Regions from separate parts of the Homo sapiens genome. Here region 1 is linked to region 2. Evidence: fine-mapped expression QTL. A gene starts in region 2. The other region holds a variant in brackets. All regions are shown on one strand. Distances are from middle to middle.

Evidence for each region. PIP is the estimated chance that this variant, and not a neighbour inherited with it, causes the effect. A credible set is the group of variants that fine-mapping cannot tell apart.
Region 1: its variant is the best candidate, but not a certain one, in a credible set for the expression of DTX1 in subcutaneous fat (GTEx, PIP 0.86).

What each region holds. Positions count from the first base shown.
Region 1 is chr12:113,076,935-113,079,829 of GRCh38, reverse strand. DTX1 (deltex E3 ubiquitin ligase 1) reads right to left here. Exons shown (of 10, transcript NM_004416.3): 3 at 1,725-2,406. Among named protein-coding and RNA genes, the nearest start is that of DTX1, 22 kb to the right of the region's middle. The variant A/G (reference allele first, on the strand shown) is at 1,445.
Region 2 is chr12:113,055,449-113,058,343 of GRCh38, reverse strand. DTX1 (deltex E3 ubiquitin ligase 1) reads right to left here and starts at 1,614. Exons shown (of 10, transcript NM_004416.3): 1 at 1,400-1,614; 2 at 1-895. The coding sequence starts at 151. RefSeq lists an enhancer at 1-376.

The DNA.
Region 1 (2,895 bases), 21 kb before region 2:
CCCAGCACTTTGGGAGGCCAAGGCTGGCAGATCACAAGAGGTCAGGAGTTCAAGACAAGCCTGGGAAACATGGTGAAATCCCATCTCCACTAACACACACACACACACACACACACACACACACACACACACACAGTAGCCGGGAATGGTGGCATGCACCTGTAGTCCCAGCTACTCAGAAGACTGAGGCAGAAGAATCACTTGAACCCTGGAGGCAGAAGTTGCAGTCAGTGGAGATTGTGCCACTGCACTCCAGCCTGGGCAACAGAGTGAAACTGTATCTCAAAAAAAAAAAAAAAAAAAAAAAAAAAAAAGAGAAGTGGCCAAGAGGGGATTCGAACCCAGGAAGTCAGACTCCCAAAGGGACAAAAGGTGAATAGGGCCACCTAGTTCAGGGTCCTGGCCTTTCCTTTTCCCAGGCCTTGTTTGCCCATAATAAAAGGGGTGAGCTGGATGCAGTGACCCCAAAGGTCGCATCCAGATCTGAGCTTTGGTGATCTCGGACCATCATTATCAATTCCCCCGGCCATGCCATAGTGATTGAAGCACAGTTGGTTTTGGGTGCCCTCTCTTCCTCTTGGGGACCACAGTCCAAACCCCCCTGGTCTTTTCTCTTCTGGTCTGTCCCAAGTTCAAGGTCTTTGATCTTTCCTCTCATTGCCACCCCTCAGGGCTTGGTTCTTTGCTCAGATGACTGAATCTGGAGTCCAGGGTAGGCACCCAACAGCAGCTCACTGGGTCCCTATCCTGGGGCCTGGGACACCTTAACCCAAGAATTTGCAAACTTGATACAAGCTGGGTGCCCATCCTTAATAAAATCATGCTGAGAAAGCCAGTTCATAAAAGTGTTTCCAAAAAGGGCTGCTCTGGTTAAAACAAGAGCAGAGAGACAGACTCTCGTTTGCCTGGCTTTCTATTACCCCACCCCCCACGATTCCAGGTCACCCCGGGAGTCCCTGGAGCCCAGTGTGCAAACCATAGTATTAACCCAGAGTAATTGTGGTATTTCAGGTGCAGCCTATGGGGAAATACTTTGGACAAGCAGCTGATGCTTGCTCGAGCCACCATGTGAGGTGGGCATGGACTGGGACAAGGACAGATGGACTCTGAAGCCCTCTAAAAATCCTAAGACAACACAGCACAGACTTTGGAATTGGGCAGGTCTGGACTCCAATGTCTACCCTTCCCCGGTGACCCTGAGAAGGCACCATAGCTTTCCCAGCCTTGGCTTCCCCATCTGTAATATGCACATGGTAGAACTGTTTGGTGGAATAAATGAGAAGGCACCATAGCTCTCCTAGCCTCGGTTTCCCCATCTATAATATGCACATGGTAGAACTGTTTGGCAGAATAAACGAGGTGATACATATAACGGGTTTAGCAAATAATAAACATGGAACACGCACCATTGCTGATGTTGCTATTATGGCCCCATCACTTGTGA[A/G]CTGTCTGATCTTGGGGGAGTTAGTTCTTCATCTGTGAACTGGAGGTGATGATGGTACCTACCTCATAGGGTCCTTATGCATGGAGATAGATGTGTGGGAACATGTAAAGGTGCTTAGTTGATGCTTGGCACAAAATGAACATTTAGTGCATGCTGGATATTACTTATCGTCATTATTATTATTGTAATCTTTGCTCCTGCCCTAGTGGCCAACCACCCCCGGGCTTCGTCCTTGCCTGCGGACGACGCAGAGGCCCCCTCCCCCTGGGCCCCGTCTTACCCCGGCGGGATGGAGGCGCGCGCGCTCACGCTGGTGGTGCGCTGGGGCCCGGGCCGGTTGAGGTTGTTCTGCCCCGGGGTGCGCGCTCCGCCGGGGGCGCCCGGGCTCCGTGGGGGCGCCCCGGGAGGCGGCGCGGGCTCGGCGGGGCCGGCGGCGGGCGCTGCCCAGAGCGCGGCGCCTGTGAAGGTGGCGCTGGGGCGCACGGCAAGCGCGCCTGGAGGCCCTCCAGGTGGCGGCGGCGGCGGCAGCGGGGGCGCGGGGGGCGCCTTGCGGCGCTGCGAGGCCAGGATGGCGTTGGAGGCGGCGCGCGTGCTGTTGACCAGCAGGCACTGCTGGCAGGAGCAGGGCTGGCCCGAGCTGGCGCCCACGGGCCACGACTGCGACTTAGGGATGGAGCCCACGGTGAGCGGGTAGGCGAGGTCCAGGCGGCGGCGCAGGCGGCGGCGCCGGCGCGTCTGGCGGTTCATCTGCGACATGCTGTTGAAGTAGATGAGGTAGCAGAAGCCTAGCGATGAGAGGTCGAGCCACGGGTGCTGCTTCTCGTAGGCGTTCTGGATGGTGATGCAGATGTCCATATCGTAGGCCGTCCATGCGCCGCCGTCGTTCTCCCACTCCCACACGATGCCCTTGCCCGGCGCCGACGACGGGTCGTAGAAGTTGCGCCGCACGGGCCGCATGGTGCCTGTACTCGAAATGGGGAGGAGGCGTCAGCACAGCGGGCGTTGGTCTGCGCGGCTGGAAGGGCGGGCCACAGCCAGGCAAGGGTGGGCGGGAGGTTGGGGGGTCAGCACAGGCCTCCAGGGGGTCCACCCAGACTTGGGGAGAGGGTCAACACATGCACGGAGAGGAAGGAGGTCAAGGCCCAGGCATGAGGTTCAGCACAGGCTGGAGGGTCAGGACAGGCGGCAGCCAGGGTGAGGGGGGCCGGGGCTAAAGGTTCAGCGCATAGCACTGGGGCGAGAGGTGGGCAGGGGCGCGTGGTCAGTAGATTGGGCGTAGGGGCGGGAGAGCCACCAAACAGGGTGGGGGTGCCAAGATAGCCTGGGGTAGGAAACCAGCAAGGTGTGGAGGGCTCCCCCACCCTCCACCTCTCCAGGGCCAAGACAGACACTGAAGTGGGGGTTATCACAGGCCCTGGATGGTGCGGGGGAGGGCAAAGGGGGCCTGGGGG
Region 2 (2,895 bases):
CGTTCTCAATGTGGTGGCACACGGTGGCCGTGTAGGGCCGCCAGCGGCTGTGCTCATTCAGCCACTCCCACACCACCACCCGGGCCACGTTCTGCGGTGGGAAGCCCAGACCATTCACAGGCATCAGCCCACCGTGGCCTGGCCGTGACATGGCCGCCACTGCCTCAGGGGCCAGGTCCCCCACTATTGCAGGCCCAGCTCCTCCTGGGCCTGGCAGCAGGCGGCAACTTCCTCTCTCCCCAGGGGGACAGCAAGGACCGTCTGGCCTCCTTTCTAACTCTGGGTTCTCTCTGAGGCCTAGAGACCTCCGTTAAAGGAATGTGGGATGGCCATCCAGGCTGCAAAGACCCCTTCCCTGTAGAGCCTTCTCCGATAAAGGGTGCTGCCCTGGAAAGCAAGTGTCTCTCTTATGCCGGAGGAAACAGCTCTAAAGTCCTTGGCCCCCTCGGCTGGCTCAGGTAGGGAGTGAGGCAGCCGCCCCTGTTCGAGGTCCAGCCTCTTCCGTGTTGTCTCTTGGTCCCTCTTCCCCGCCAGACAGGGCCTGTCACCCAGGAGGCCTGGGCCACAGCCTGCTGCTCCTGCGGCTCTCAGCCAGCCCTTTGCACTCCCAACTGCGTCCCAGACCCTGCGCCCGGCTTCAGTGGGGCTTCTCGCCTCCCTCCGGTCTGGGCCCCCTTCTCCGACGGCTCCTGCCGAAGGGGGCGTCCCTGCCCCCTTGTTCCCTCTCCACGGTGTCCTGGAAGGCCTGGGTGGCCGCAGAACGCACGGGGGAGGGGTGCGGCGTGGACCCTCGGGCGGCGCGCCTGGACTGCGGCTCCGGAGCTGGGCTGGGGGACGAGGGGGACGAGGGGGGCGGGGGCCCGTGGGCACGCCCCACCCCACTCGTGCTCGCGACCTGCCAGGAGACAAGAGGGGAGAGGGCCCTTTAAGAGGAGAGCGCAGCACCCCCTCCCCCCTTCCCAGGAGAGCATTCGGCTGAGAACAATGGGGAACCGAAGGGGGACAGCAAGGGGGGCGTACGGGGTCGCCCCGCCCGCTTTCCCTTGGGGCAGGCCTGGAGGGAAGGCAGGGGCCGGGGGCGCGGTTTTCCGAGACTCTCCGCCTGGGGGGCGCCCTCCTTGGCTCCCGGAGCCTTCCCTTCCCCCGGGGCCCTCGCCCTGCCGGGGGGATGCCGGGTGCGCTGGGGTGCGCCGGGAAGCACGGGGATGCGCGGCGCTGCAGGCGCGGCCCAGGGCCCCTCGGGGGTCGCGTCGCGGAGGGGGCGAAGCCAGGAGCTGGATCGTCTCTGCCTCCCGCCCTGGGGGTAACAGCCCCGCTTCCCCAGCCCAGACGTCCCCGAGCCGCTCGCGGGCCCCCAGCGGGAGCCGGGGGTGGGGTCCCTAAGCACCCGCGTTCTCACCGCCTCTCTTCGTCTCCGGCTCCGGCTCCGGCTCGCGCTCCAGCACCGCCGCCTCCTGGGCTCCCCCCGGAGTGGGAGGGAGCCGCGGTCCCGCCTCCGCGCCCGTTCCCTCCCAGGCCCCTCGGCCGCCGCGCCGAGCTTTCCGCGCGTGGACAGACTGCCCGGCCGACGGACGGACGCAGGAGCCGGCTGGCGGCCGCCGGGATCTCGCGGGTGGGAGGAGGCCTCGGCCGTGCTCCGGGAGGGAGAGGGGAGGGGGCGGAGGAGGAGGAAGGGGAGGAGACAGATCTCGGCCCTGAGCGCCACCGGCGCTGACACGCGAGTCTCGGGGCGCCCCAAATCCTCGGCCAGGCCCTCCCGAGACCCCAAGGGGCCTTCTGACCCCAAGCAGAGCGTGAGGCAGGGAGTGGGATGTTTAGGAGTCACCGGCTTGAATCTTTGTCATCTTTATTTCCAGTCTCCCAGTCCAGGGCCTGGCACTGAATAGGTGCTCAATAAATGCTTGAATGAATGAATAAGATCCAGAGACTGTCTAAAGAAAGATCTTGAAGCATTCAGAGCTAGCCTCCTTTCCTCCTCTAACTATTCCTGGGGGTGGGAGGGTGCTGACAAGGCCTGATTCAGACTCAGTTGGAACCGTGGAATCTGAAGAGTACAGATGAGGAGACTGAAGCCAGAGAGAGTAAGAGCCAGGCCCAGGATCACAAAAGCTTAGAGCGATGCCCAGACACCAACCCCGATCTGAATCTCCTGCCAGTACCCAGTTCCCAGCCCTGAGCCCACTTCCCCCAAAGCACCCACCTGCTCCAGGTGAGAGGGGTGGGACCAGGGGAGGGGACCCTGGCCAGGAGGTGAGATCCTGGAGGAAGAGAAGGGCAGGCCCTCTGCCATGTCATTCACAGCCACCTGCAAACAACTGGTGCTCAATAAATGGTGGGTGAGCATTGGTTGGATGGAAGGGAAGGCTGGAAATGGCAGCGGCTCAAGTGTTAACGGGATGGCCAGTCCCCCTGTCCTCCAGCAAGCTGGATGCGGCTGAGACACACATTGGCTGGGAGGGGGGTGGACCACCTGGGGCCTGGGGGTGTTTAGATTGGGGAAGATGAAGGATGCGTCCGGGAACTCCAGCCTGGGTGGCTGACGGGGGTCAGTGGCCTGTTTGGGCGCCTGCCCAGAGCAGCCCACGCCTGCCTCCCCGGGGCAGATGGGGATACACTAGGCAGGGTCAGGGGCAGGCTGCTCAGGGGTGCTTTCCCAGAATCCAGCTCTGGCTCTCCGGCCAGCTGGAGGGACCTCCCCTCCCCAGGCCCCTGCTCTGACCTGCAGCCCAGTGTTGGATGGGCTTTTTCAGATTGGGTCAATGATTCTGCTTGCTTTCACCTGCTGTAGACTAAAGAGAGAGGCTTTGCATAGGGCAGGGCCAAGTCTGACGATACTCCCACAGGATCACTGAGTTCTGGGATTTTAGCCTAGGGTCCCTGGATGGCCTTCTGGGG